3 linked regions of the Homo sapiens genome follow. The protein of the gene in region 2 interacts with the protein of the main gene of each other region in a pairwise test. Each region holds a gene or a part of one and is shown on either strand. Other genes may lie near its edges.

Region 1 (7,299 bases), on a different chromosome or scaffold from region 2:
CGCTGCGTCACCAGCTTTAGTTCCAAAAGGGTCCTTCCAAACAGGACCATGACGGGCGTCACCAGCGCCGCCAATCAAAGACCGTCCATTCATCCTTACTTTTTCTCAATACATGACAAAGGGCAAAAATATGTGAATCAGCATGACGTGTGCCCTAGCTCTAATGACCACGCAAAAGGCAAGCTGAGGGGGGCTGGAGCGCGCCCACTGGGTTCCTGGTGAGGGAAGATGTGGCCCCACATGGGAGACCGCTAATGAAGAAGGAGGACTTTGCCTTCACCAAAGAGCTCTCAGTGGGCAGAAAGACAGCAGCTGACTATGGAAATTTGATGTTCATTTACTTTGCTTAAAAAAAAAATAACGGGAAGCCATCCTACACAGGGACCAATGCCCAGATTTTGTTCTGCTGCGTGTCTCTGCTGTTGGATCTGAGGTTGCTTCTTCCAGAGGGGGAGGAGGGGGTTCATGTTCTGACACGTTTGGGGGCAGATTGTGAGGGCTGCATCTTGGGGACCAACACCAAAGCAACAGGTTGCCCCACAGCAGTTTCCCTTGGCCTTGTTTATGAAATGTGAGAAGAAGGATGCATGATGTGGGCTCTGTTTTCTGTAATAAGATACTAGCCACGCTTTGTAAGCATTCACAAGCTGCCTTTAAGAGACTCCTAAATGGTATTTTTTTTTCCTGTGCCACCACATCCAGCTGTGTTTATTTTAATTTATTTTATTTTTTTTTAGAGACAAAGTCTCATTGTATTGTCCAGGCTGGTTTTGAATTCCTGGCCTCAAGTGATCCTCCCACCTTAGCCTCCCAAAACACTGGGATTACAGGCATAAGTCATCATGCCAGGCCAAGAACTCTTAAATTTTGAACATCACTTTGTTAATAATAAACAGTTTTTAGTTGAATTCCACAAATGTGGCAGCTTTTTATAAATTTTCTTTTTCCTTTTTAAAACTTCCATTGCATCCAAGAATATCACTCTTTTACCAGAAGTTCCAGTTGTGTGTGTGGTATTTCTCTTTTTCTCCCCCTGTTGTTTATTCTGTTTTTACTTTCTTCTTCTGGCTTGGCCTAAAACCTGAAAACCTACCCTTTACCAGAATGACTCAGAAAAATCCACAATTTTAGGAAACACTTCTGACATGTCTCAGGTAAAAATTGTGTGTGTGCATGCATGTGTGTATATTTACCTATAGTAAACTAGCTGGCTAGTTCTGTACCACACTGATGTGCCTGCATGTTGCATTATGAATATTTTTATTTGATAAAGAACAAATGGTTAAGAAACCCAGTGGTAGGGCTCTCATGTTATATAAAGCTAAAAACAAAGAAATAAGAAACAATGAAGAATGAAAAAAGAGACAAGCAGGGGTTGTCACATTTTCTCAGTGTAGACAGCGTCTCCTTCTGCCCCTGCCTGGCACCGGCCTTTCCTCTACCACCAAAATCACACACCTTGGAGAACCCCTTCCTTGAGCTCAACATCAATATTTTCCTAGAACCAAGAGAAATTTGAGAGCTAGGTAGGATTTTAGAGACCACGTAGTTCAAGCCTTCATTTTATAGAAGAGAAAACCAAGGATCAGAGTGGGCATCATCCAGATTCACTCAGTACGTGGCAGGCAGACTGGGTCTTATGGAATAGGTCAGCTCTGGTGGTTCTTAATTTTTCAGTCTTGGGCCAGGCACATTAATGCCACCCAAGGTTCGGTTCAAGTCAACAAACAAGTGAAGCAGCAGTTTCTGTGTGCTGGAGTATGCAGAGAGGGCTAGGACTTAGCGATGCGGTGGGCACAGACTATCTTCACGGTCACTTTGAACTAATCTTGGGGTGGGGGTTGAACAACCACAAAGAAAGAGCTCTGCTATCCCCAGTTTCACCCTATGCCCTTGCCAGAAGCAGTTACTCTCTGACAAACAAATGTCTCCCTGTGCCTCAAAGCTGACACATCTACAGCAAGGCTTATGTGTGCTGAAGTTAACATCCCAAGAATATCCTGGAAGCTGCACCTGAAGAGCTTTCCAGCAGAAGTCAAAAAGCACTTTTCATACCCCAGATCACTAGTAAAATGAAGCAGTGCTTAGCATTTTAATACAAGGCAATATCAAGATTTCAGGTCAACTAATATCCTCTATTTTATTACACGAAATAAAATATATTCTATTGCCAGCATGTATTAGAAATTTGTGCAATTGGAGAGACCTGAAGTCTTCAATTTTCCATGCTTCAGCTATTACTTTTAAAAATAATATGAAGTGTTGGATATGGATATAGAAGAAAGCATTTAAACACTCATGGTCTAGCATAATAAAGAGACTTTCAGCATTGACACTTATTTGGTACTTACTATAATCTTTATTTTAGGTAGTTTTTGATTTTAAGTAGCAGGAGATGCCCAGTTTTCTTTAAAGCTGTAATTGGAAACAAAGAAAATGCTGTCAGATATTCCTGTGTCCTGGTTAAAACACTTCCCTCCTTGGAAAACACTACTCCCAGAAGTCTTGATTCCAGACTCCAGAGAGTGCAGCTGCAAGGAAGCTGCCAAATTCGTGGCTTCAGTTGTGACTGACTTGTTCTCCCGATGGGTGCACAAGAACATTCCCTTCAGCATGACAGCACACACAGAGGAGTCCATAAATCCATCACTGGAAAGGGCCATTCCCAGTGGCCCACTTTTTTCTTTTGAGTCTTGTAGACACTCGCCTCGAACTTATTTCAAGAACACAGCCCAAATTATTATTTCAAGAACACAACCTGAAACTCCTAATAGTGTTGATTAACCCAGAATCATTGAGCACATTGGGTGGACACCTCCCTGCAAACCCTCTTCCACATCAGCTCAGGTGCTGCATGCACCTTGCTTCAGAAATCACGAATAAAGGCATGCCTTTGAGCTTCCAGGAAGAAGCCTGTGGCTTTGGTAAATTGCTTTCTAGTCTACCAGAACTCTGATTTTGCTACTTCTGATCAATTCCGGTGATATAAAACATTTTCTTCATTAAGAAAAAGAGCAAAACTTAGAACTGTGAAGACAAGCCCCAAATGATGAATAGTTGGAAATGAATAGAAATAAGGATGAGTACTTACACCACTCTAGCTGGCTTCCTGGCAGCAGAAGGCAGTGGCTGATAAAGATTTGCCCACCTCCACGACAAGGGAGAGTGCTTCTCAGGAGATGGTGCTGGAGGGAGGCACCTAACAGTTATATACTCAGAGCCCCACTCTGCTCTGTGTGTTTGTGGGCTCGGCTTTCTCCTCCCACTTCAGGCATCAATGCCAAAGCAACACCAAGGAACTGGTCCCCTGGCTTCAGTACCCGATGTCTCTCTCTCTGTTCTTGACAGAGTACCAACTGCTTTGCCACAGTTTCCACAGCATTCCAAGGTCTTTGACCAGCAATAATCCTACCAAAATGCATCTTTTTCTTCTCCTGTTTCCTCTGGCCCCTACTCATATTTTTGGAAAGATTTACAACTGAAAAGGATCAACACGGTGTCAAACTAAAAACCATGGGGCAGGTTGCTGCTGTGTGGACTCGGAAGCTAAGCGACTGCTCCTGGGGTGAAATTTTCTTAGACTTGGCACAACTTCTACACAGATGTAAGACTCCAGCAAGGGCCTGAGGGGCTGTTGGGAGGGTGGGGAAGATAAGGTACATGCAAGTTGTTTTCTGAAGGCCAGCTGCCTTTTTCCCAGTGAGGAGAAAACAAAAATATCAGTGTTTCCCTGGAATGTCTGTCTTCCCAGGTGAGAATTCTTGGACATACTCTGCTGCCTCTTTAAAAGTCAGGAAGCAAACATTCTATAGCAGGGAAATCTAAAACTGAATTAAAATATCTCCTCCTTCCCCCTTCTTTTTAAATTTCAATTTTGTGGCTTGTTCTGTTATGGCAAAAATCTAACTCAAATCTACTTTTATGAGTGCAGAATTTTAAAAAAATATATGTGTATATATGTATATGTGTGTATATATGTAACATATATACATCTATATTACATACATACATGTATATATGTAGATATATACATATAATAAATATACATATATACATATATTACATATGTGTAGATATATATGTGTGTATATATGTAATATATATACATATATACATATACTTTTAAATATATATATAATATATATATGTAATCCCACAGCCAGCCATGCAGATGTCATAGGTCTTTTATCTGGGTCTCCTGCCTGCTTGGATGTGCAGATAGTACTTATCAGCCTTCAGCTAGGTGGCCCATGGCTGGGAGCTCTCTGGCTCCACCCGCTGGACACCCGCCAGACCACAGGGTTCTTGCCGGCTTGGGACATCCTTCCTCCAAGTGCCTCCCGAGCAGCTGAGGTAGGGTGTGTATAGGTCTAGGTTCATAATAAGAGTTTCCAGGTTCAGGCAAATCTCCTTCCAACATTTTTTCCCTGGTAAAATAAGGAGAAAATAAGCTCCTCGGGTTTCCCTGAAGGAGAAAAATGAATCTTCAGGAGACAGTGTGAGTGGCCTGCTTTGGGAATGAAAGGAATCATACTAGTGTCTCCATGACTTCCTTATGCAAATGGACCACTGTCCCTGATAGAAATAATCATGCTAATGATGGTAATGAGAATAATAACTGCCACAAATGGTAGAGCATTTGCAAAATTCCTATATTATACTATTGTCCCCATTTTGTAGATGAGCAATCTGAGGCTCAGAGTTTAAATAACTTGCTCAAAGTCTGACTCAAAGTTTGTACTTTTAGCCACTCCAGTGCTGTCCAATATTTCCAACTTCTGCCTGTATGTTTGCTTTTCATTAATTCCTTCACTCAACTTGGCCATGATGCATATTTATGGACCTCATCCTGAAGCTGCCTCCACATGACACCCATGGAGCCTTCTGCCTCAGTCGCACTGGTCAGGGCTGAAGGTGTGTAGTGAATCTCAGACCTCCTTGGAAAAACCACCTCTTTCTGTACCCACCCTCCCTCCCTGGCCTTTCTCCTGGTCCCTGTAAAGCCACACCTTAAGTGGGGGGCCACAAATTACAGCCTTGCCATATTGTATGCACAAGGCAGCACAAGGCACATGGAATTCCAAGTCAGATAAACCTGAGTTTGAATACTAGCTTTTCTCTGACAAGCTGTATGACCTTAGGCATGTTACTCACAGTTTCTGAGCCTCAGATTCCTCAGTGTAAAGTGGGGTAACTTTTCTTCCTTTATAAAGTTGTGATGAGGGATGACATCTTCAAAGCACCGTGCCGAACATGTAGAGGTGCCCCCATTCTGATGTCAGCCCCTCTCAATCAGCACTGGTTTACCTTGGGGGTTTCCAAATGGAACCTTCCTCCTGGCTTGAATAAGGGGACAAACTTCTCCCTGCTTTGACATCAGAAGGGGTGCAGTTATGAGTACAGAGGAAACCATTTGCTTCATTCAAGAACTGTGAACTAGGTAGCTTTCTGATGCAGGGCTTGCCAAATTCTCATACTGCAGGATTCTGAGATGCCAGGGTCCGCTGCCACCCTGTTGCTGTAGACAACTGGGCACTCATTGCGTGCATACATGTGTTCTCGGTGCTTTTAACAGCCTAATTGCACAATACAATGAACTTTTCTCTGTTCTTTCTACAGTAGCTCCTTTATTATTTCCAGAGAGTCATTTGCTGAGTATGCCCTAACATTGCCTTTCCTTGGTCTTTCCCTTGCATCTCCTCTTTGGGTGCCCCTCTCTGTTCCCATACCAAGTGAATGCACCTTCCATCTCTCTGCCTGGAACAATCACAAATGAACCTACATAAAGCTGCTCTCCTCTTCGACTTTCTTCTTGGAGTTTCTGCCCCTAGAATGTTTTCTCTCTCCTCCCCCTCCTCATACTCTGCCCAAATCTATTTGGATTTCGCAGTGGGCTTCTGTGCACTTAAAGCAGTTTACATCTCTATTCCTCACTGGCCATGAAATCATGCCGCCTAGCTCTGCAACAGTTCTGGTACTGTCTTATTTTTTAGAATATATCTTACGATGCACAGTCCCATCTGGGCCGGAAGGTACCGGATGATGAAGTCAGGATCCAATAGCTCTCTCCATTCCTAATGGACCTCTCTTTCCAGAAAGATTTTGAGGCAGTTCATCAAATATACGTAAGAGGACATAAGAACTAGGTGACAAAATGGAGAAAGGAGAATGCAACTATGGATAAAACACAATTTTCATATTTTTTCTACAATACCTTGCATTTGTTGGTATTTCTAAATTTGTGTTGTTTTAATCAGAAATTATAACACTGTTTCATTTGATTGCTGCTTGATATTGATCTACGCATAGGCAGTTTAATGTTATAAATAATTGGCACCTCAAGATTATGTAATTGGGCAGTGCCCTCACTGAGGACTTCTACAAGACATTCTCATGCTTTTCTGTCCCCTCACCCCCCCACGAAGAGAGTGGCAAGGACTGCAAGTCTGGAACAGAATGTTCCTTTGCAGTGAGTTCTGAGCCTACTGAGTTCTTTGGTTTGGTAAACAGTCAGATAAAAAGGTACCAGACGAGAGCCAAAACTCCCAGAACGACACTTGGAGGGGACCCTTTGATGTAGGCATTCCCTAGAGTGAAGCCAAGGATCAAGGCAGCGCAGAGAGTGCAAAAGTCTCACTCAAACCTCCACTGCCTGCCCTTGCTGGGGGAACACAATGACGGGTGATGAAAGGAGGCACTGAGGTCCCTAAGTTTTTAGCTCCCCTTAAATGCAGTCCTGAAATTATTCCATCCATTTTAGGAGTAAACGGGGATCAATAGCTGGGAGCATCCAGAGATGATGTTCCTCCTGCACAAAGCAGAGGGTTCATGTAATCTCCATCCCTACCTACAACTTTCATCAGATGCCCATCTGTCACCTTTCCAGCTTTTAAATTAAAATCAGACCAGTGTAAGGCTCATAATGTAGTCTCTGGTGTCATGGGCCAATGCGTAAGGGTGTGCAGGTTGTGCACTGCACAAATGCACCACGTCTAAGGGGGTCACTATTAATGTCCTAGAAATTTGTGTGTTTATTGCAACAAAGTTCTTGAAGATGGTACTAAAATGTCTTGAGAAAAGGGGTGCTAGTGTGTCTGTGCAAGGAGCCATATTGTCTAGCAATACCTTGAGCTTTTAAAAATTTTCATTTTTATTTTTTTTGAACACCGAGAAGCCAGCTTTTGTTTCTTTTTCTTCTTCTTCTTCTTTTTTTTTTAGACAGAGTCTTGCTCTTTTGCCCAGGCTGGAGTGCAGTGGTGTGATCTCAGCTCACCGCAACCTCCACCTCCTGGGTTCAAG
Region 2 (8,489 bases):
AACTCATGTAGTTTTTGATAATACAATACCCAATAGTTATTCAAAGACCCAGCCTTTATGCTTTGTCTGTAGAGCATCTCTGAAGCCTTAATAGTGCTATTCTTTTTTTCCCATCAACTAATATAGTTGTCACTACTTAGAATTCTTTAATCTGTTTGTCTTAATCATGTATTTAATATATTGTATCATTTGTCATTTTCACAGTTAACTAAATAAGACCAGTCAAATATTCTTCATCATTCTATTCAAACTTTTGACATAATGTTATTACTTTAATGCCTAATCTTTGTAAAGTGTGCAGAACAGCAGAATTGAAGTTTTGGCAAGACTTTTTTTCTTTAAAGGAATCATACAACTCCAGTTTCAATTTGTGAAGTATAATTAAAGTGAGTTGACATGCTTTAGAATTGTTCTTGTTTGGACATTCTCCCTCCTTTAACTTAGAGCCTATCTTTTTATTCTGCTTTTTCGGTCTATCATTTAAGGACAACATTCTTTTTGCTGATATTAACAAAAGAGTTATTCCTTCAGAAATAGGATCTGTAGCAAGCAGACAAGGTCCTTCATAGCCCTTCTGATGAAGTACAATTTAGTACCATTTTCCTTTCATTCCTTCCCTACTTTCTCTCAAAAGGCACACTCAGCAGAGAACAGAAAGGTACCTCTCGTTACCAATTTGTTAATGTCAGTCTTCAAACAGTAGAGTCTGTATTTACATTGTTTATATGATCGGTAATTATTTTCTACCTGTCTAACAGTGTTCCTCTTTCTTAGCCTTTCAACTCTCTAACAATCAACAACTTTGATGGAAAACAATGGGCCAGAAGATTAAGAAATATTGTAAGATCATTTCTCAAGTATTGATTTAAATATTAAGGTTGACATAAAGTGAGCTCATCGTATTATGAACCCTCAAAACAGACTATCAAAGTCCACCAACAGTAGACAGCCCTTTCCTGGACCACGTATCTCCAAGCCCTTATCACAGATTAATCTAGAATATCCAAAACCCTGAATGGTTTGTAGGTGTTCAGGGCTGCTGGATCTGTCTGTGCTGATTTATACGAGACTATCCGATGTTTTTAAAGTCAACAATGACACCTACAATTTTTTCAGAAGTATCTGTGTATATTGTTACAGTGTCAGAAGAATTTTCTTCATAATTTTTTTCACTTAAATTTGCATGAAAAAGAGTTTCTAACCCTCAACTCTCAGCAGGTAGATGAAGAAAACACACACACACAAATACACACAACACACACACACACACACACACACTTCCCAGGGATAGAAAATAAAACAATTCCAGGGAATCTACCAGATTAGATCAACTACCCTCAGAAAACAGAGAACTGGCCACATTACTTTTCAAAAGAAGACTCCTATTATTAATGGCACTAAGGTTTAAAAACAGCAGTCTGTCAAAGTGAAGCCTCAAGACAGAAACTTTATAAACAGCTTTTAACCCACAAAGACACGAGCTTTCACTCACCACTGAGTAAGACTTCTTGATTTGGTTAGTAACACCCTAAGTGGCTTTCAGGAAGCCTTCACCAACTGCTGAGTAGACAGTCAAGAGCACAAAAAGGCTTCCCTGGAGATTACCTCCTCCTAGTTACTCGAGAAACTCAGATTGCCCTGACACTGCCAGACAAATAACTGTATCCCTTTGACATCCAAAGATTACCTGTCAAAAGGAAACTCCAAACACACACGTTCACACGCACGCGCATGTATACACACACACACAAACACACACACACCCCACCACAGTCTGGTTGGCATGAGCCCTACCTGCATGGGTTACCATTTCCATGATAACAGAGCACTCACAGGTGTACCGCTGAGAAACACCAGGCAGACCGTCATTTAAAGAGCTCCAAGGAGTCTGAGGGTGGGAAACTGCCGGCTTTCAGCAGACCACCCTGGCAATGAACAGAGCGCCAAGGAACCCTGGTATCTTCCGTAGAATATGCCACGGTCCCATAATCTTAGTGGAACTTCACCTTGACTGTACAGTATTGAATCGCAATACCTCTTATGGGAAGCTCTGAGCTCAGACATTCCAAAAGAAAAAAGTACCACCTTCGCCAACGAAAGTTTTTTTCTTGTCTTTAAAAAGGGATAGAGTGAGAGAGCTTAACGCCCCCTCCTCAACATTCCCTCGTCCCCTGCAAAGTTTTCCAACTTCAAAATACGCGGTCACCAAAGAGCGGGGTTCATTTGCTTATTCAAATAACTTTAATACTATGGGACATGTAAGACAGCAAAGGGGACAGGTGCAGATGGGCGATGCAGTAGAAAATATGCCTGTCCCCCCCTCCCTGCCCCTCACTCTCAAGCCCCGTTCCCAGTTTCCTCTCCACAAACAGCAGGATATCACGTCCGAGCCCAGCTTGCCCCTAGCCACTCGCAGGGACAGGGGAAATGTAAACTGTTGCTACAGCCTCCTGACACTCCACCGATAAATCAGAGGAAGCTGCAAAACTTCTTGGCTTGCTCAGCTATCCTCCACTGGCACTGAACGCCTATGCACAGATTTCGCAGTCAGCGCTACGGGAAAGGAAACCCTCAGTCAACCTGTTTGCAAAGCCTGCAGAACAACTCCCGGCCTTTCGATTTTGGGCGCCGAGGCTCTCCGCGCAGGACGGGAAACCCCCGGTTTCCTTCATCAGTATCCCTCAAACCAAGCTGGAGGTGAAGGGAACAGAGCTCCTGCTGCCCGGGTCCCAAGGTTCGGTCCCGTTGCATGAGGTCGGTGCTCAGGTCGCCGCGTGGGGCGTCCCCGCCCGCCTAGAGGGTCTCCGCACACTGCGCCCCGGGCAGCCCACGCTTCCCGCAGCCCCAAGCCAGAGGCGTCCGAGAAGATCCGCTTCCAAGTTCCCGCGTCTGGCTGGGAGAAGGGGCGACGATGGCTGTCCGGCGAGGAAAGAGCAAAGTCTGCGCCGGCAGCGCGCCCCCTTCCCCGGCGCTGCCACCCCGCGCCCCAGTCGGCCGGCCAGGGGGCCCGGCATCCCCGACTCGGGGCTCCGCGTGCTTGCACTCACCCGTCTCGCCAGAGCCGCCGCCGTAACCTCTGGGAGCCGCTGAGCCCCGAGCTTCCCGAGCGCAAGAAAGATGGTGGTGTGTGTCGGAAGACCACCCATTCCAGCGTCTGGCAACCCGGCGGCGACTCTGGCTCCTCAGCACTGAAGGAGGAGGAGGAGGAAGAGAAGGAGGAGGAGGAAGAGAAGGAGGAGGAGGAGGAGGAGGAAGGAACGGCGCAGTCAGACGCCATCTGCTGTACACCTCTGCGCAGCCATTGGCTGCCTGGTGCGTCCGAGAGCCGCGGGGCGCGGGGCCGCGGGGAGCCACCTTGCGCCTCGCCTACCCCGGCAGCTGTTCCCCACCGCCCCCTCTTTCTCCCCCCTCTCCTCCGCCTCCTACCGCCTCTGCCGCGCACCCGCACGACCCTCGGCTCAGCCTGCTCCCCAAGGCGAGCGACCGCGGGCGCGCTGGCCTGGACCTCAGTTCCTCTGCTCCCCGCAACTGTTTGCCGCAACTTTGAAGCTTCGGGGTGCCGGTGCGGGCTGGGTAAGGGGACTCCCCAGCTGAGCTCAGCCCGGAGTACCCAAGCCACTGAGCCCAGGAGAGGGTCGAGCGCTTTGCGCCTCGGAGGTCCATGAAGTGATGGGGGAAGAGAGCAAGAAAGAGTGGGGGTGCCCTAGGCCCCTGTTGATAACGCGCCCCAACACGCACACATGCGCGACACTCCGACACACAGTAAAACACACACACCGAGCCATCCCGCAAGGTCCGGATGGTCTGGCGTTCCTCTGCAGTCCCCGGGCACGAGAGGGCTTCGGTGTTACTAGGAGAAAAGACAAAGAAAATCCTATCTGGGGAGTACCCCTAGCAGCATACGTGGGGGAGAGAGAAAGGGAAACATTGTGGTGACTCCGGGAAACGCCGGGAGCTGGGTGCATACCTGCCTGGACATCCCCCCTGTTGCGGGGCTCCCAGCGACTGTCAGCCCACGCCCACCAGAGCCTGGGAAAACCCCTAGCTCTGGGGCCTCTGTTTAAAGGATTTGCAGTCCCGGGGCGCGGGGACCGGAGTTGCGGGAAGGAGCGCCTTAGGCTCCTGGGTAGCTCATGCCGGAAGCAGCAAAGGAGGTGGAGAGTCCGAGTCAGCCCAGGTGAGGCAGGAGTGCAGACAGCGGAGAGCACGTGGGCAGTCGAGGAGCAGAGTCACAGCTCAGAAAGTCGTTTGCTTACTCTCTGACACTTGTTCCAAACCCTTCTGGTTTTTGACACCTTTGATCTAGGGAACTTCTTAAGCTTGTTCAGAGAGATGAAGTTGCTTCAAAAGGGAGAAGGGGCGGGGGGAAGCATGAGGACTACCTATTGCCAATTACAGGATATTTTGCCTGTCAAATCTCTTTAAATGTGTGAGCCCAGCGACAGCAGGGATTGTATCTTTTCTATTTTATCCAATGCCTGGCACACCATGGGTGCTTAAAATGAAGCAAAATAATAATGATAAAATTAAAGCTTGATGTCATAGAGCAAATTAGATTCAAGAGATAAATAGAGAAGCTAGGATCTGTCACAGATAAAAAGAAATCAAAAGAATGTAAGTGCCATTGTAAAGAAAGATGTGAATATATTGGTAAGGGGCTTCAACTCAGCTTGCTGTGGGATGATGGGTTCTGAAAGCAGGGAAGCCTTACTTAATATTTTAAACAGCAATCGCTATTCTCCCACTACAGTCACATTCTGGGTTATGCTTTTTTTTTTTCCTGACATCACTGTCTTAAAAATAAATCAGCTGCCAACCAGATCCCAGAATATTTTCTTAAATCCAAGACCATGATTTATTACTCTCAAGAGATAAAAGGCCAATCCTGTGACCCAGGGGAGAGAGAAACTGGTCCATTATGTTTTATTGTAATCTCAATATATACAGATCAATAGCCAATGAGTCTCATTTAAGTAACTTCAGGAACAACAGCCAAAGAAAAACATTTCTGTTTTCTTGAACTATTATACCCAGGCTTCCCAGGTTTCAGTTTTCCCAGAATCAATGCTGCATTTTCAGGCCACACCCCCTGCACACACACCCCCATATGGGAGAAAGACTTGTGTTTGCAATCTGTCTGGAAAAAAAGATATCAAGGATGACTTCTGAGTATGGCATGTATGGACATCTTAGTAGTTATTTGTCCCCCTCCCTCACCAGAGACAATGATACGTATATTTTCCTTTAGGCTGGCAATTTGCTTTCAACGTGCATTCTGATTTAATATGCCAGCCCATTCTCATTAACCCTTTGCTCTACGTCAGCAATCACTTACGATACCCAAGAATACTTTGATTCTTAAGACACAACTTTTCTCCTCTGAGGCATTGTTTGTGTTTGGTCTCCTGGTTTTTGAATCTAGGATATGAGATTATAGTCATATGGTAATTCTGTTGGGCTTCTTAAAATAAAAAAGGAGAATGAAATCTAAATTATTTTTGAAAAATAAAGAACCATGAATGTTAAACTTGTTACATTTGATTCCTTTAGAGAACAATCACTTTTCATTAAGGCACTGCTGACAACATATATTTCAGTATAGTCAAAGAGTATAAGATGTCTGAACTTTATCTGTGTGATTACATACAAATTTTGTAGACGGAGAATGCAAGCACAAGACTCATTCTAACTTTCTCTTTCCATTTCTAGCTCAAATTCCCAATTTATATTTTAAATGTATATTTTACTCATAATATGAGTTTCTTGCCAACATAGTTAGCTTTGGTTCTTAATAAAAACACTGCTCTCAAAATCTAGATTAGGTTAGAAACATTAAAAGGATAACCTAGGCAGGGAAAGGAATATTAGTAATGAAGACCGTAAGAGCAGGAACAGAAATTTTTAAAAATAAGTGAACAAAGAAAGGATTTGGAAGAAGGTAGGCTTGATTAAAAAAAAACAAAGGTGGCATCATTATGTGTAAGAAATAGTTGAATGTGCCAGGGTTGGAAAATAAGCTTGAGATTAGAAATTCCCATAATCCTGCACACACAGATGCCAAAGGCCCCAATCACCACCAGACTTCCAATGAGAATGAACAAAACAAAAATACAATGGCAGAAGAGAGGGGATAGAAGGAGAAAGTCTGTTGAGATTAGGTCTCCATTGGGAAGACCTAATGAGTCTTCCCATTAAGGAATCACGGAGAAAAGTAACCCTATGCTAGCCAAGTACAGGCAGAGTGTAAATTTACATTTTTGTTGTTGTCGTGTGTGTTTGCCACTGCTTTTTCTGAACATGATGTTCTCCATATAGTCTAACAAGCTTGGATGGGAAAGTGCTATGGAAATGAAATAAACAATCAGTGGCATTAAACAAGGAAGAGCTAAAGAAGGCACATAGATAAAGAAGCCCAATCTAAAACACAAGTGATAAATGCAAACATAAGCCAGTATCTTGGACTTGCCACCCAGGGAGTTGCTGCCCAGGTCTACAATGGCCCATCCACTGAAGCAGCGAATTGAGTCAAATATTCAGTCACTCTGGGGGACAAAATAGGAGGAAAGGGGGAAGAGAAAAAGAACCATGATTGTCTCATTTACACAATTCATTCAGGCCAGTTCCAGGTTGGAAGAGATTCTGTGGCAAATCTGAACATTTTTTCTGCCAAAAAAGAACATTTAATCCTGGCATATAAATGTAACTTTTGAGCTTGGTCCAGTAATTTGATTTTGATGTGTCAACATCTTAAAATACAATGTAAAGATAATGTATTGAAAAGTAGTGTAGTGGAACTCCACTGGCTTCTGGCCCAGTTCAGTCCCTCTGAGGCACCAATGCTTTCCCAGCAGACGCTCAACACTCACAAACGAAGTCCTGAACCATCAGCTTCAGTCATTCACTCAGCAACATATTTGATTAGTGTCTACTATGTGCCTGGCACTGCACTAGGTATTGGTTATTCAGTGATACAGAGTCCCTGCCCTCATGGCATTTATAGTCTAATGCAGTGACAATAAACAGGTATGCAAATGATCCTAAATATATAATATGAAAGAAAAGGAAAAGAGTCCTGCAATAAAAAAGGAATGCAATGGAGCAGGGGTAGAAAGGAAGGTCAGAACCAGGCAAGAGCTCTCAGAGGAAATGACATTTAGGCTGAGACCCAATCATGAATGAGAGGTAACATTTATGAAGATTTTTCTAGATATTAGGCAACAGGCTAAATGTTATATATATATATATATAATTTAATCCTCATAACTACCCCAAGATGTGGACACTATTTTCAACTCCATTTTACAGTGGAGGCATACAGAGTTTACGCAACTTATTCAAAGTCACACAGCTGATAAGTAGAAAAGCTAGGATTTGGCCAGGCAGTCTGGCACTAGTGTGTGCATTTTTAATCACCAAGATACACTGCATCTCATATAAGCAGGCATCAGCCAAGAAAGGGGAAGAAGAAGGATACATGGCCAAAGAGCCTATGGCTGGAAGAGGTTGGCACATGAAGAACCCATCGGGGGCCAAGGTAGCCGGAGATGAGTAAGCCTGGAAAAACTGCAGTGCAGTGGGATAGGAAAGGCAGGCAGGGGCAGAGGGGCAGGTGCTTGTGACCAATGGGTGGTTTTATCTCTTTGAACAATATCATCTAATTTAGACTTTAAAAAGATCACTTGATGCTGTGCCGCAACCAAGAAAATGGCAAGAGTGTAACAGGGATGCCAGTGTCCAGGGAAGAGATGGAAGTGGCTTAATGGAGAGAGAACCAGATGGTTTGATGAATATTTGGAAGGATCTTGGCTCTGTCTTCTTGTCATATAGCAGCATTGTGGAGAGGCTGGACAGTGATCAGCCCCATCCAGTCAGTTCTGGGACCCTTGCTTCTGATCCCTGTCCTAGAAGTCTGTACCACCCACTCTAATGCCCAGCATTATCTGGGTTCATTGTTTTGCTGCTCATCTCCAATAATATTGACTGACCAAGAGATCTATAGTACAATGATCCCTTCTTCCCCACTGCTATCTAACGTTACCAAACCAGAGCAAAGAAAGGAGAAGCAGTCATTCAATCCACACTAAACAAGCCGGCAACCTCCATATATCTAAGACACAACACCGACTAATGTGGAAATAATAAAACCCCTGGAGTGACAACTTGGATCACATTCATAATGACTTGGTTTGTAAAGACCAGGTGTTATGTAGATTGGAGCCTGTTATTATCCAAAGATTTGGCAACCTTAATCCTCTTCTGCTGGGCACAAAGCCACACGATACTCATAAGCCTAACTTTGATGAGATGGGCAAGAGGGCCCATGTCTTCTATTTCTCTGTCTTCTAAGGACACCAGCCTGACTGATGGACAGTAGGTCCCTTTATAGGATAGGAAGAATAGATAATATTGGAAAATGACTATTGTCAACAGATTGAAAGCTAGAGTGTTCATGAGTGAGGTATAAGGGGTGGAACAGATAAAAGAGCATC
Region 3 (7,499 bases), on a different chromosome or scaffold from region 2:
CAGCTTGGTGAGAGAACCAAGTTCTAATGTGGCGTTAGCATACAGAGTCACTTTTATTCCTGACTTGGCTCTCCTTATTTTTTGTTTCTAATGTTTTGGTAAAATTTTGTGACTATTTGTCCCTTCCACTGATTTCTAGTAAGACTTTCCTGAGTTCAAATTTACCTATGTGTTCTCAAGATGCATTATTGGAAGGGAGATGAATTTGGTATTGCCGATAGTTACAAACAGCTGTTACTTCGGCTCCACTCAGGAATAATCTATATACACATTCCTGCAATTGAACACAGCTACTGATCAGTATATAATCCAATTGATTGATGGATCTCAGTGCCTCTTCCTTCATGGTGAATGGAACTAAATAAATAGATAAAATGTGCATTGCACCATGACATGAATTTCTTCCTTTGGTTCCTTATTTTCTATGATGCAGAAACTGCATAGCAGCATGTTTGAAGGTGGCCTGTCAAATTTGGGAAACTGACGGTGTGACTGAGCTAGTCACAGGGGTCTTCACAGAAAAGGCAGTCGGGGTCCTGGTCAACTGGAGATTCCATCTGAATGGTGAGTGAGTGCATCGTAAAGCTTTTGCTAAGGGCTTTAGCAATTTCTCTCCGAACCACTTGGCTGTCCCGGCTGGCTGCTGTTGATAAAGAAGCACAGGGAGATTAGCACTGATTGCACACGCATGGGCGACTGCTCTGACTCCAACTTCAAGTACTTTGTCTTTGACCTGCTGGGGTGGGGCAGAGGCAGGGCACTCAGAGGAAGCCACGTTTGCTCTGATAATCAGCTACATTCACACAGACAAGGCAGGGGAAACTCTAGTGCAGCAAAGTGCCCTGTCGCTATGGGAACTCTTTCTGTCCACTGTTATCTCTGGAGTCTGGCATTCCTAGGAGCTTACTATGGAAGGGGAGACAAGCCCTGGAAAAAGCCAAGACAGAACTATTATTTCTTATACAGCCCTGCTCACCAGCTCCCAGGGATCTCTGGGTTGCAGGCTTTGTATGTAATCAGAATTTATATCAAGGATAGTGACAGGAACCAGGAAGCGTTTAGAGCTCCCCACAGACCTTTCTTAGAGCAGCAACCCTCACTGCCATTTTTTTCCTGTCCCAAATGCTATCAGCAGGCTGTAAAGTCTCCTCCATAGCAACCTGAGTGTTTACTAGATTCTTCCATTTGCAGTGAAATATTGGCATAGTGAATGCTGTAAATTCCCTCAAGTCAGACCTAAGCCCCTTCGAGAAGATGACGATGTCTGAGAAAGCACAGTTTTCAAATGACTGTCACTAGTGTTCCTGTCCCCTGCCCCTAAGTAACTCCTTGAGTCATTTTTTAGCAGCCTAATGTGTTATCCTTGGCCTGAGCTTTCTCTTGAGGCAGTAAATGCCCTCCCACTGCCTATCCTCCCAGCTCTAGGACATATCAGAGACAAAATTAACTTCTTGAAAAAGTAATTTTAGTATAAACCTAGTATTATAAGAATTTTCTCACATGGCTACAGAATTTCTAATCATACAGTGTGGGACCCCACCATAATTCCTATTAGCACATCCATTAGCTTGTTAGAAATTTAAGAGTGGGGCTGGTGTCTCTTTCATCTTCCTATTTTCAGTGCCAGGAAAAACATCTTATACATAGGAGATACTCAATTAAGATTAAGTTTTTAATTCATTCCTATTATTTGACTGATAGGGCACCAAGCCAAACAGATGAAGTTGAATATTCAGAGTCCAAGGCCTTGAAGTGGCGGGTGCATTTTAGTCCTTTGTTCTGTCTGTCCTCAGCCCTCTGCAGTCAGCCCCAAGAATGTCGTGGGTATCATTGTTGCTATGACAACATCAATAAGTGGGCTGGTTTCAAAGGCCCTTGGTAATAGAAAACACTTTATAATGTTTTGACAAGCAACAGACAATAAGGGCAGCTCTACAAAAAGAAGGGAAATTACTGACTTTACAGGACAAGGACTGAATTTTTTCCAGGGTGTTTACAAAACTCACTGACCTGTAGCAACATGAGCTGAGAGAATTACTTGATTCATTGTTAGAGACCAGATGTGCAGGCTGTGCACAGACAGCACCCCGTCGACTGCTAAAATAAGCTCTTTCACACCACTGTAATTCAGGCTCTTTGGCACACCTGACAAAAGGGAAGAGATGGAGGCTGTAGTTATTCAACTAGATACAGCTCATTGAATTACCTAAACAAGCTGCAAAGTCCTCACCAAAATTTCAATGTGTTCATCCCTTTGCTGGTTTCTTACTTCAAATGTTTACAAATAAGATTTACCTGACTACTTCAAGGTTTACCATCAATCAAAATTTCCCACTCAGAATACTTGCAGAATTTACTATGCAATAACCAACAATGGTAATTATCCTTAGTTTTTATGGTATACTATTAAACTAACTGTGCCTTTTCCAACTATCTTTATATACACTCTGGAAAGTAAAATGAAATAACATGAAATTTGGTATCAAATAATCATGGGTTAGCATCCTGACGACAACTATTGTGAATTTACCCAAATCCCAGAACTTCTCTGACCCTCAGCACATTTGTAGTAAAATAAGGGTGTTAAGAACAACACATAGATCACAGAGATCTTTGAGGAGCAATTCAGAAAATATCTAATCATTATGAACAGCAATGTTGTACAAAGATTAGTTACTCAACAGGTCATTTAGTGAACTGTGCTAATAGAGGATCCTAACATTGTATAATACCATCTTATTCGGTTTGTAAGTTTTCTATTATTTTAGCTACATTGGAGGATGCTGTAGAAGAGATGTCTAAGTACAGCCCTTTTTTAGCCTCTACTTCAGTTATGTACAAACAACACAAACACCTGGGGTGTTTATTAAAAATAAATGTACCACGACTCCATTCCAGACCTAAAAGGAAATTTCTATGGATGAAGCTCCAAAATCTAGAGTCTTTCAGAGTGGTTTTCAACCTTGGATGCACATTAGTATTACCAGAGGAGATTTTAGAAATCCTGATGACTAAGTTACACCCAAGACCAATTAAATCAGAATCTCTGTGGATAAGGCCCAACATCAATGCTCATTTGGTGATTCTATCAGGCAGCCAAGATTGAGAACCACTGCACCAACATTCATGAGCCACTGAGCAGCTCTGCTTTGCAGTGGTTCTCTAGTCTGACTACATGTTTTTAAAAATACCAAAGCCAGCCCCAACCCCAGACAATTAAATCAGAATCTCTGGGTGATATAGTTTGCATATTTATCCTTGCCAGTGTCTCATGTTGAATTGTAATCCCTAATGCTGGAAATGGGGCCTGGTGGGAGGTGTTTGGGTCATGGTGCCAGATCCCTCATGGCTTGGTGCTGTCTTTGCGATGATGAGTGAGTTCTTGCAAGATTTGGTCATTTAAAAGTGTGTAGCACCTCCCTTGCCCTTGCTCCATTCCCATCATGTGACGTGCCTTCTCCCCCTTTGCCTTTTGCCGCTATTGGAAGCTTCTTGAGGCCTCCCCAGAAGCAAATGCCACCATGCTTCCTGTACAGCCTGCAGAACCATGAGCCAATTAACCTTATTTTCTTTATAAATTATCCAGTCTCAGGTATTTCTTTATAGCAATGTGAGAACAGCCTAATAACACTGGGTATGGGAGGCCTGAGCATAAGCATTGTTTAAAAGCTTCCCAGAGGATTATAATGAACAGCTAGAACTGAGAAACATCTACTTAAAGAAATGGGGAACCCTTAACCCTCCTTTTGAAAAATTTAACCCATTTATGCCTGGGGTTGCAATTTTTTGAATTTTTGCAATCAGACCTTGGCAATGACCTTGAGCAGGATATAAATAACTCTCACATGCTTAGCATTCCAATAATGGAACACTCGGCAAAAAATGGGCTAAGAACCTTGCTCATGGGGGATTTCCTCCTTGGAGTTAACTCAAAATTCCCTACAGCATGAGCTGAGTTTTTGATCCTACCTCATATTGTTTGGGGAAGTAACAAAGAGCTGGTTATCATGCTATTTTACTCTATGAGTGGCAAAAGACCTAGGCTCCTAGAAGCAGATGAAAGGAGTTCTTGTCTCAAATTAGCCATACAATGTGAATAAAGTCATGGGTAAAATTGTCATAATAATAATAACAAACTTTTATTGAGGGCCCACTATGTGTAAAGTTTGTGCAAAGTACTTTATATATAGCAATTATCTCATTTAATAGTCCTAAAAACTTTAGAAGCTAGTTATTAAGGTTACAATTCTTATTTAACTAGAGAAGAGGAAATTGAGGTCAGTTAGATTAAGGAACATTGCTAAGGCCACACAGAGAAGTGGCAGAACCAGGGATATCAGATCCCAATGTCTGTGCTCTGAGTATAAAGTGTTACGCAAATACTAGAGTCTAGGAATTGCAATCAAAACACTGTCTGTTATGCCTAATGTGTGTCATCTCTTTGGGGAAGTTCTGTTGACCATTTGAAGACTTGCTATCATTCATCTAGGCCCTTTGAAATTAAGTCATGATCCCACTACCCTTTTTTCACTTGTCTCCTTCATCTCATTACTATTATAGAGAACATAGGTCCACCATGACTTATTTTATTATAACAAATAGTGTTGCCAGGCAAGAGGCATGGCCCCACTGGACTCAATGCTCCATCACATCCTAGAACTTTCTTTTACTTGGGGGGGAGTCTGAAAAAATATTAATGCATCCAGGAAAATATCTAAATTAGTGTTTAATAAATAACTTCCCAGACTTATAAATGTATTTGAAAAACCACTGATCATTCATAATTAAATAATTGCATTTGAAATCAATAAGATATAATATTTCACCTATTAGAGTAGAAAAGAATGAACAGTTAGTTTGATAATACTCAGTGGTTGTGATGATGTGAGGAAAGGGGCACTTTCATATGCTGTTGAGGGGAAAGAAATTGATACTGTATCTTTGGTAGAAATGGTAATATCTATCAAATTTTGAAATGCATGTGATATAGTTTGGCTGTGTCCCCACCCAAATCTCACCCAAATCTCACTTTTAATTGTAATGATCCCCACGTGTCAAGGGTGGGGGCCAGGTGAAGATAATTGAATCATGGGGGCAGTTCCCCCATACCGTTCTCCTGGTAGTGAATAAGTCTCACAGATCTGATGGTTTTACAAATGGGAGTTCTCCTGAAAAAGCTCTCTTGCCTGCTGCTATGTAAGGAGTGACTTTGCTCCTCCTTTGCCTTCTGCCATGATTGTGAGGCCTCCTCAGCCATGTGAAACGGTGAGTCCATTAAACCTCTTGTTCTTTATAATTACCCAGTCTCAGGTATGTCTTTATGAGCAGTGAAAAAACATACTAATAAAGCATGTAAGTTTTGAAACAGCAATATCACTTCTAGGAATTATTCCACAGATATACAAGTGCTAAAAATATATATGTACAAGGGTGGTAATTACATCATTGTTTATAGTAATTACATCATTGTTTATAATGTCAATCACAAGCAAGTACTTCCATGCTGTGGAGTAATTACAGCTGTGAAGAAGAATGGGGTATATCTATGTATGTGCTAATATAAAAGATCTCCAAATGAAAAATGCCAGGTGCAGAGAAAAAATGTGAATCAATATGTAATCCCATTTTTATAAAAAAAGGTACACACTTACATCACATACACATATACATATACATGTATGTATGTATATATATATATGCAAATGCACAAATATCTTTGGAAAGATAAATGTCAACTTATTAACAGGTATTATCCCTGAAGAATAGGACTGAGAAGTCAAAGACGGAATTATAAGGAGACTTTTTAAAATTATTTCATACTTTTCTGTATTATTTTTAAATTTTACTAAGTACTATACTAACATAGTTTGAAAACCTAATTTAAAAATTAAGTGTCTTCCAGAAAGGAGTTATCTGCCAGTTTCTATAACTAGCTGACGTAGTCCAGTCTCTGCACTTTTCCTGAAGTAAAATAAGAAAGATAATCACCAGGGAAGAGCTATAGCGAGACACACAAAGAAAAGCGGAATATAAGTCATTTCAAATTGTACACCAACTTGTCTTTTATCTTTCTTTAAGTCAATAACTTCCATAATAGCAACAACAGCTGCAGCTCAGCATTCGGCACTCAGGAAAGAAAATGGATGCTTCTGTGGCTTGACAAACCAAATATTCTCATGTTTAGAGACAGAAAATTCACTATTACTCTGTGACATTTGACTCCGTTATCCATTTCACTGTTGTCAACACTATTATCTTTCAACAATTATAGTGACCACCAAGAACAAACCTTTAAATGTATACTTAGCAGTGAACACTAACGAAGTGTGAGCTGTCACTGAAGGCAACTGCACTCTGAGACCAGATCTACCTTATGTCAAAATGTGCTGGACAAAAAAAAAAAAAAAAAAAATCAGCTAATGTCTGGATATTTCAATCATCTGGATGTTTGATATGATGCAAACTTCTAGCTCTCACTGAATTTTACAGGTGCCATTCCCAGGGCCAGCATGTGGGAATCCCTTCAGTGGTACTAAAAGATTAGTCCAGTGGTTCCTGAAGTGTTGTCCTGGGACCAGCAGCACCAGCATCTTGTTAGAAATTCAAATTCTTGCTCCTCCTACTCCCCAATAAGATATACTGACTCAAGAATTGTGGGAGTGGGCTCAGATATCTGTGTTTCAATAAACCCTCCACGTGATTCTGATGCCACTAAAGTTTGAGAACTGCTGGGTTAGTCTAATAAGGGTTTTAGGCAAGTCCTTCATAATACCTGTTTTCCTGGAATGTAAGATAGAAAATAATATCATTTGTTAACGACAAATGGCCAATGTAGCAATGATAAATCACCTTGTAAATATAATCAAGTACCTCAGGTCTCCAATAAACCTTATTTTTAAATTTTAAACAGTTTTAAATTGACATGATAATTGTACATATGTATGGGACATGCAGTGCTGTTGCCATACAGATAATTCATAGTGATCAGATGAGGGTAACTGACAAATTCATCATCTCATACATTTATTATTTCGTTGTATTGGGAATGTTCAATATCTTCCTTCTAGCTATTTGGAACTATATATTATTGTTAACTATATTCTTGTCATTCTGTAGTGCTATAGAACACTAGAGCTTATTCCTGCTATCTCATTGTAATTTTGCATCCTTTAACAACTCTCTCCCTATCCTACTCTTCCCCTTCCCTCCCTCTGCTATCTGTTCTACTTTTCACTTCTATGAGAACAATTTGTTTTTAGCTCCCACATATGAGCCAAAACATGTGGTGTTTAACTTTCATTTCCTGGCTGATTTTACTTAGCATAATGTCCTCCAGTTCCATCCATGTTTCTGCAAATAACAGGATTTCATTCTTTTTCATAGCTGAATAGTATTCCATTGTGTATATACACTGCATTTTCTTGATCCATTCATCTATTGTTGGACACCTAGGTTGCACTCCCACACTTTCCCTTTGATGCTCCAGTCAAATCTCCTCT

What was found. Proteins that work in one complex are often made in the same cells at the same time.
Region 1: the proteins of THSD7B (region 2) and SLC14A1 interact in binary tests that used the Homo sapiens proteins (3 or more experiments, as listed by UniProt).
Region 3: the proteins of THSD7B (region 2) and SLC30A8 interact in binary tests that used the Homo sapiens proteins (3 or more experiments, as listed by UniProt).

Annotation. Positions count from the first base shown.
Region 1 is NC_000018.10:45,720,066-45,727,364, reverse strand, and holds the start of SLC14A1 (urea transporter 1), read right to left. Parts: upstream 3,185-7,299; 5' UTR 3,092-3,184; intron 2,416-3,091; 5' UTR 2,352-2,415; intron 413-2,351; exon of another isoform or gene 94-412; coding exon of another isoform or gene 1-93. UniProt on the Homo sapiens protein: Mediates the transport of urea driven by a concentration gradient across the cell membrane of erythrocytes.
Region 2 is NC_000002.12:136,760,246-136,768,734, reverse strand, and holds the start of THSD7B (thrombospondin type-1 domain-containing protein 7B precursor), read right to left. Parts: upstream 3,191-8,489; 5' UTR 3,048-3,190; intron 1-3,047.
Region 3 is NC_000008.11:117,165,680-117,173,178, reverse strand, and holds part of SLC30A8 (proton-coupled zinc antiporter SLC30A8), read right to left. Parts: intron 2,146-7,499; coding exon 2,011-2,145; intron 644-2,010; coding exon 498-643; 3' UTR 1-497. UniProt on the Homo sapiens protein: Proton-coupled zinc ion antiporter mediating the entry of zinc into the lumen of pancreatic beta cell secretory granules, thereby regulating insulin secretion.